Linked DNA regions of Homo sapiens: region 1 is linked to region 2. The links come from fine-mapping of genetic effects on gene expression. A gene starts in region 2. The other region holds a variant in brackets. All regions are shown on one strand. Distances are between the middles of the regions.

Region 1 (4,395 bases), 73 kb before region 2:
TTTGTAGATGTAAGGCATATTTCTATAAATTCGATATGTAAGGTAGGTCTCTATTGAATGAAACCATATTGAATCCAACTGTAGTAAGAATTATGGCAAATGGCTGGGCACAGTGGCTCATGCTTGTAATCCCAGCACTTTGGGAGGCCAATGCAGGCAGATCACCTGAGGTCAGGAGTTTAAGACTAGCCAGGCCAACATGGTGAAACCCTGTCTCTACTAAAAATACAAAAAATTAGCCAGGCGTGGTGGTGTGCACCTGTTACTGGACTATTCCGGAGGCTGAGGCAGGAGAATCGCTTGAACCCAGGAGGCGGAGGCTGCAGTAAGCCAAGATCACACCACTGCACTCCAGCTTGGGCAGCAGAGTGAGACTCTGTCTCAAAAAGAAAAAAACTATTATGGCAAGCATATAGATTGTGATGAAAAACTTGAACTAGAAAGAGTTTGTGTTTATTTTCAAATAAAATAGGCAATGTTGCTATGTGATACTGTCATGGTACTAGAAAAAATTATATGGGAATAAAAATATTTTACAGCTGGCAACTTTGTGAAAGAATTTCAATTGAATGTTAAGTATTTGTTTAAACAAATGCTTAAAAATATAAACCTAGCCAGGAATATTATTGCTCAACATGTTGAACTAAGGCTTAGTTAAGGGCGTGTTGTGTGAATAAGTTTAATGATTTCTGGCAGTTTCTATTATAGATGATGAAGCCACAGATATACATATACAGGTTGAGTATCCCTGGTCTGAAAATCCCAAATCCAGAATGCTCTGAGATCTGAAACTTTTTGAGTGCTGACTCGACGCTCAAAAGAAATGCTCTTTGGAACATTAAGGATTTCAAATTTTTGGAGTAGTGATGTTGAACTGGTTAAGTATAATGCAGATATTTCAGAATGAAACCTGAAACAATTCTGGTCCCAAGCTAAACTTGTACCACACACCTAGGTATATGGCGTCAGGAGAATTTTGACGTGATTAAAAAGGTTTTAGACTGGGTTTTCATGACATGAAATGACTTCCAAGGTATTGACAAATATCTTGGCAAGTTTAAGGCAGATTTATCAAAACTAGTAATCATAACTATAGACAGTGCTGTAGCAGTGGTCAGTGTTAATTTTAGACTTATTAAAATCTAAACAAATGTAGGTATATGTTTTGCAGGGGTGCAGAAATTGTTTGTTCATTGTATCATTCACTAGGAATTGCTCCCTACTAACAAAGTTAAAAATATACGTTTTCTTTCCAAGAGATGATCAATACAAGTAAAGCATTGAATTTTATGTAGATTTGTCAAAATTAGTAATCATAACTATAGACTTGACCTTTTAAACTGACATTATGACTGATGTGTACATAAATGTATAAGTCTCTTTGTTTTTTCCTTGTGAAATTATGTCTTTGGAAGCCCATTTGGCAAAAATAATTTGGTCTACTTTCCTATATTGAGGTCATTTTTCAAAAATGAAAGTGATGTCTTAACCCACATTTTTAGATGTGAAGGTGCAATTAAAAACAAAACAGACCAGGTGGGGTGGCTCACGCTTGTAATCTCAGCACTTTGGGAGGCCGAGGCAGGCGGATTACTTGAGCCCAGGAGTTTGAGATCAACCTGGGCAACATAGTGAACCCTGTCTCTGTTTTAAAAAAAATTACAGTTAAAATTAAAACTCTCGCACAAAGATTCTATTCACTATTGAAAGTTCCTACCTTTATAAACAGCCACTTAAAAAAAAAACACTAAATAAAATTAAATATTGCTCCCAGTTAAAAGCAGATTGAAATGCCAAATGAAAGACCTCACACTGACTTTTGGGTCAAAGAAAAGTGTCAGATTTTTGGCCTTCTATGAAAAGTATGTTATAAAATGAAAATTCATAATGAAATATTTCTATTTTGGCCAGGTGTGGTGGCTCACGCCTGTAATCCCAGCACTTTGGGAGGCCAAGGCGGGCAGATTACATGAGGTCGGAAGTTTGAGACCAGCCCGACGAACATGGAGAAACCCCGTCTCTACTAAAAATACTAAATTAGCAAGGTGTGGTGGCACACGCCTGTAATCCAGCTACTCGGGAGGCTGAG[G/A]CAGGAGAGTTGCTTGAACCCAAGAGGCAGAGGTTGCGGTGAACCAAGATCACGCCATTGCACTCCAAGAGTGCAACGAGAGCAACAAGTGCGAAATTCCCTCTCAAAAAAAAAGAAAAAAAAGAAAAGAAAAGAAATATTTCTATTTTATTTTATTTTTACTTCCCTGGTAACTCACAGAACACATTTCTTTTTTAATTTGTATTTTTCAATTTAATTTATTATATACTCTCCAGTATTACATTGTTTGTATCATGTTAAATGCTTTTAGAAGCTTAGTAGTAAGGTTCAGTTGTATCTCTGAACAGTTGATTTTTCTTATTCCCAGCTGTTTGAAATGCTTGTTCCCTGGTGCCATAAAGAAATAGCACTTGAACATAAATTTAATTTACTCAGCAAGGCCGTTTTTATACTTTCTGCAGAAAGGGTATACTTGCCAGCAGTTTTGCCACAAGAGTACACCGATCAAAGCAGACAGGGTCATTTATAACCTGACGCGTCCACCCTACTGCTGTGTCCGGTTTCCATTGGCTGGAACGGGACCTGACGTTCTGTATTTGTCCCGGTTGGCTAGCAACTTAGAACTTTTTTTAAAAAGAGGCAAAGGCAGAGGAGAACAAAGGAAGGAGGAGGTAACTTGTGGAATGCTGAGAACGGTAAAAACACCTTCAAATAAGGAAGAGGAACAGGCTATGACCTAATGCTTGCTTGGACCAGTATATGCATGCCAGGGCAAATATTTAGGCTAAATTGTGGGAGCTAAGAACTTAAAGTACATTGATTTCTTTATCATGGCTAGCAGATATTTAAGAATGTTAGTACGGGTCTTTGAATACATTTTGCTTCTAAGAGAAGTTACTATTTATTCCTAATTAGACAGGGAGGAAAGTCTTTGAAGAGGAACCTCTAGTTTTTACACCAACTCACTTTATTCATTTACTCAAATGCCTTACAGGTCTTTGAGTTTGAAACCCCAAGTAAGTAAAATAATTCATGAAAGGTAATAAAAACAGAGTCTGGCACATAGTTAGGTTTTCAGTAAACGTAACTATTTTATTCGGCTGAAGGTATCAGTATCTAAGTGTGGTGCTAAGAGTTTTCAATATAATATATAAGAGGGCATGCTACTGTGACAGATGCACCTGATGTAGGATTAGCAATGTTGAGGTCCAGGCCAGCAAAGTGCAGATGGAAAGGTCTTGTCCCATAGATCAAAGGAAAGCCCATGTTTAGAATGTAAATGAAATGAGCTCTTTCCTTTGAGTGTAAAATATGGTCTTATTTACTGGAGTAGATTTAGTTTGTTTCTTCTTGATGCTTCGAGTTGCAGTTTCACTGTTTTAATGAAACTCAGCTGTAATATTGTTTGCCCCACCTCACCTCACCTCCATAAAAGTGAAGCACCTTTGGAAATGAAAACAGTATCTACCAAAACCCCTCTAGTGGTATTGATTATATTTGGTAAGCTTGGTAAGATGTTGCTGTTTTTAACACCAGTATTGTACATTTGGTAATTAAAAAACTGACTTGAAAGAAGAATGAACTAGTTCATTCACAGCTCCTGGTTCAGGGTAAAGAAAAAAAAAAGAATGGACAAGTTCAGAGTCCTAGAAGTCCTAGAAGTCATTGAATGTAAACGAAAGCTAAATTTGTAGCTAAAATAAAGCTATAAATTAAGCTATAATATATTATTTAGCTGCTGACATTATGTAAAAATTAACATTTTAGAAATATTGAATCTGAATCTTAAATAAATTACCTACCTTAATGAGTGACTTTTTAAAAATAAAGCTATGTATTGCACCCAAAGGCATATTTTATATTGGTGAAAATTAAATTTGGGAATGTAATGAGAGTTATATTACTAAATTACAGTTCCAATGTAGTAGAAGTACTATGCCTATTAAGATGAAATAAATCAGCATACATAATACTAACAACAGCGATTGTTTATTTCATGTTTAGTATATACATTGTCCTAAGTATCTCATATATATCATCTAATTTTAATCTCTTGGTCAATCATAGAAGGTAGTGACTTTTACCAACATTTGCAGAGGAGAGAACTGAGCATTAGAATGCTATACAATTTTCCCAGGGTCACACAATGAAGGGGCAGAAGCAGAATTTGAACCCTGGTCTGTCTGACTTGAACACTCATGTTATTTACCACTGTGCTGACCGACAAGTATATTAACTATCTCTGAAAATTACATATGTGTGTTAGGGAGGCAGAATTTGGGATGGTTGTGGTTGCGGATAACCTCAGTTGGGCTTAAGGCTAGTATATCAAGGATTTGTTTTTT
Region 2 (4,395 bases):
TTGTGGCAAAAACAATTTAAAATTTACCTTTGTAACTACTTTTAAGTGTACAGTTCGGTGGTGTTATATTTACATTATTGTGTAACATCTCTAGAAATTTTTCATCTTGCAAAATTGAAACTCTGTACCCAGTAAACATTATATCACCATTTTCCCCTCCCTCTACCCTCTAGCAACCACTATTCTACCGTCTTGTTTCCACAAGTTTGACATAATCCCACAGTTTACATACCTCTACATAGTTCATATAGGTCAAATCATAACAGTATTTGTCCTTTTGTGACTGGTTTATTGCACTTGGCACAACATCCTCAAGGTTCATCTATGTTGTAGCCTGTGATAAGATTTCCTTCCTTTTTAAGGCTGAATAATATTCCATTATATGTATATATCACATTTTCATTCATCTCTTCATCTGTTGATGAACATTTGGGCTGCTTCAACCTCTTGGCTATTGTGAATAGTGCTGCAATGAACATGAATGTGCAAATATCTCTTCGATATCCTGCTTTCAATTCTTTTGGATATTTACCCAGAAGTGGGATTGCTGGATCATATGGTAGCTCTAGTTTTAGTTTTTTGAGGAACTTCCCCACTGTTTTGCATAGTGGTGGTACCATCTACATTCCTATCAGCATTGCATAAGAGTTCCAATTTCTCCACAAGATCCCATCTTTAGAATATGCAGCAATTAACTAGGGGGTTTTCATTTTTGGTCTTTTTTGTTTGTACAAACATTATTGTGTCAACATTTACACAGATTTTAAATTTCAGCCTAGACCTGGAAGAGTGTTGATAGAGGAAGGTGTTAAGAACATCAACCGGAATCAGCTCTAGAGATGGAGAGGGGTTGGCAGAAGCTACCTAAAAGAGAACATGCTTGATGTGGTAATGAAGTTACCTGCTTGGATTCTGGACGACCCTGGATATTTTCTCCTTTGCTAAGAAGTTAGCTTCTTTCTCTCCCTCAAAAATATTCTTCTCTTCCCTTACCTACTCCAAGGGTACAAGTGACTGGGGTATGCCTGTCACAGATGAGGTGAGGCCAAGATGTGGGCACTACGTAAGGCCTGACAGATATGGTGTAAATGTTATTTATTACCATGATTACTGTTTTGGAGATGGTCAGTGCTGTAAATAGAAAGGGAGTTAAGAGCAGACTCTGAAGCCAGACTGTCCGGAATGAATCCAGGCTCCTCTAGCTACTATCTATGTGATGTTGAAAAAATTTCTTAATTTCTCTGTGCCTCAGTTTCCTTATCATAAAATGGCAATGTTAATAGCACCCACTATGTAGAGTTCTTAGGATTAAATAAATTAATATTCGCTAAGTACTCAGTGCAAACTGTGGGCACACAGCAAGTACTACGAAAGTGTTAGGTAAAATAAAGGTGGACCAAGCCTGGTAGCACCTAGCAAGTCCAGCTTCATCTTTGCTGTGCTGAGTCGTGTAGGTGGTGTTCTTGTGTCTCTGGTTTGCTGGAGGACCTAGTTTTAGTGTATTTTAGGTATCATTAAGCATCCCCGCTCCCTCGATGGGATAGGGGTGTGTGTGTTACAGGTGGTTGTTGGGCACCTTCACGGGGCAGCGGTGACTATGGGCTGTACGTAGTATCTCGGTAGAAAGTGTTAATGCACATCCCTGGGCGGAGAGGTAACTCTACTCAATGCGTTATAAGGGAAATCACACACCTCACGGATGGTGTAGGTTCTGTCTGCTCCTTGCGTTTCAGTGGAGGTGCACAGAGCTCCGGGGGGCATCGGGGACCGCGGGCCCAGGACGTGTAGTAGGGAGCAGTGCTGTACACTTCCTCGGACCATAGCGGGGACGGCGGGTTCCACACCTGTCGGGGCAGTAGGGACTGAGCTCGTGCGCGCGGAGGATGGATTGCTCCAACCTCTCGGTCCAGCGCGCCGGCCGCCGCGTGCGAACGTGTGTGCGGCAGGAGGCTCGATCTACACCTCCTCGGGGCAGCAACGACTGCGAGCTCGGTGCGTGCCGTAGGAGGTGTCGTTACACACTTCCTGTGGGTCTCGCCGACCACGGCGCGTTTCCGGTGCCGGCTGGAGCCCGGGGTCCGAGCCCCCGCCCCGCTCGCCGGCCCCGCCCCGGCCCGCCCGCGCCCCGCCCCCTGCCCGCCCGCCGCGCTCCGAGCCGGGCGCGCGGAGCTCGGGGCGCACGGAGCGGCGCGCGGCGGTCGGCCGAGCCAGGCTGGCGCCCCCGCCCCCCGCCCCGCTCCTCGGTCCGCCGCCCGCCGGGCGCCTTCCCCGCTCCACTTACCTTTGGTGCCCGGCCCTCTGGCCGCTCTCCTCCCGCCCTCGCGCCCCTTCGGCCCGTCCCGTCCAGCCCGGGCTGCCCGGCTCTCGCAGGCCCCCCCGCGCCGACCGCGTTCCTATGGACAGACGCACAGACACCTGCAGGTGGGTGAGAGCCCGCGCGCGGGGCGGGGACGAGTGCGCCGACGCCGCGACCCAGGCGGGGAGCCCCTTTGTGTGGGGGGCGGCCGCGCCGGGGTCGACTCTGCTTCCCCGTCAGCGGCCGCGCGGTGACCCGGCTGAACCTTCCTTTTGTCTCCTCTCGGGGGAGCGAGGCCGGAGCGAGGGCAGGGACCCGGGCGGCCGCTCGTCGGCAGCGCCGGGCTTGGGGGTGCGAGGCGCAGAGACCCCCGGTGGCGGCTCCGGTCCGCCTGCCCCGGGCCGCCCCGCCGCCCGGCAGCTCGGGTCTCAGCGGCGGCTGCAGGCGCAGTGCGTGGGGCTGGCGCCCCCGCTCCTGCTCTTGGGTCTGTCGGAGGTGGGAAGGAGGGCGGGAAGGAGGAGGAAAAGGTCTGTCCTCTTAGTTTCCAAGTCTTGAGATGCTTATGGAGAAAGAGAGGTGGTTCAGGGCTCTGCCCCACTAGTTTTCCTCCTCGGGTGGCTCGCCGAGGTGCGTTTGGGGCGTGTGTGAAGGAACGTGCATGGCTTCGCTCCCTTATTTATTGTTTCTAACGGAGGAGGGCTTTCTCCAAAAGGCTCTTCCGCCCCCCCACCCCCATCTGAGGCTGCGCACAGTGATTTGTGTTTGTTATCAAATATATCGAGAAATGTATTCCCCTGGGTAGGAGGAGGTTGGACTGAACAACGTCAAACCAAAATCAAAGAATGTTTTTGGTTCCTTCAAGTCTTTTTTTTTCTTTAAGGTTTTAGATTGGGACTTTAAAAAAAATGAACGTGGCTGTGATTTTTACAATTATATGTATTTAGTGTGTGTGCGTGTGTGTGTGTGTGTGTGTGTGTGTGTTTTGAAGTTTAGGAGTAAAGTTTTGTTTTTTCCCGAACTCGTTAGGATTCGCAAGACGGAATCCTCTCCCGACGAAATAAACAGCTAACAAGCCAGTCAGGTAGTGACAGCTTCCATGGTGGAGGTTAAATTGGAGTGCAATAAACAATGATCTAGCTTTCCCTTCAGGCTGAAGCCTTTATTTCTGCTGATTTAAGATATGAGATCTTTCCCTACCCATGAGACCATGAATGTCAGAATTGAGTTTCCCCTCTAGGATTGTGCCTTTACTATTTTATTCCACGTATATAACCCAACGATTGGGTTGTGCATGGATATGGATACAGTGTTTTGAAAAATACTGTAGGGTGATGTTTCTGAATTGTCTTATTTGATTAGCTAGCTAAGTTTCTTCATGAACGGTTGCTGTGTATTGTAGATACTCAAATAATAAATGAGGTTGAATAAGCACCCAGAAAATTAATTTTACAGATTCAGATTTTTAATACGCAGGTATGGATTTATGCCTGTATCAATCTCAATCTACTGCTCCGTTCTGGAAACTCTTTTTTGCCCACCCTGTGAGAATTTATATTGACAAAGTTAAGTCTGACAGTTACCCAGGAGATTAAAAAAACGAAGAAGCAGTTTTGGGGGCCATGCATACAATTATATGGACAGTCATATGTAAAAAATAGAGGTTTTCCTAAAAAAACAAAAAGCATTATCATCTAAACTTGAAGGAAAAACGTGGAAAATTATGTATTTAAATTTTCATTAAGGTTTGAAAATTAGTAAACAGTGTACAATTTAATGCACTTTTTTAAAGACAAACTGATTTTTGTCATTATAAAAAGTTTAGTATGCTTAAAATAGTGCTTTTTTCTAGGAGAAAAATTTATCTAGATTCTTGTCCCAGTTAAACAGATTAATATTATTGCATGCCTAATTTTGTAAATGCCTGGAGCGTAGATTTGTACACACATTACTTAAAACCTAGCAGTGATCAAGCCAATCCTTTTTAGTTGATAAAATTTTACTAGTTTCTGCTTTGACTTCCAGTCTGCATTAGGTAAATGAATTTAAATTCTGCACAGAAGCACAGCTCAGTATGTGGCTCTGGTAGGCCCTTGACTAGC

The links. PIP is the estimated chance that this variant, and not a neighbour inherited with it, causes the effect.
Region 1: its variant is the best candidate, but not a certain one, in a credible set for the expression of KIAA1958 in whole blood (TOPMed, PIP 0.73).

The regions. Positions count from the first base shown.
Region 1 is chr9:112,411,292-112,415,686 of GRCh38, forward strand. The region is part of intron 4 of HSDL2 (hydroxysteroid dehydrogenase like 2); the gene reads left to right. Among named protein-coding and RNA genes, the nearest start is that of HSDL2, 33 kb to the left of the region's middle. The variant G/A (reference allele first, on the strand shown) is at 2,090.
Region 2 is chr9:112,484,698-112,489,092 of GRCh38, forward strand. It overlaps KIAA1958, which reads left to right and starts at 2,130. Exons shown (of 4, transcript NM_133465.4): 1 at 2,130-2,421. It overlaps HSDL2-AS1 (HSDL2 antisense RNA 1), which reads right to left and starts at 2,947. Exons shown (of 5, transcript NR_171779.1): 1 at 2,282-2,947; 2 at 1,693-1,844. RefSeq lists an enhancer at 1,609-1,668 and silencers at 2,099-2,158, 2,239-2,728.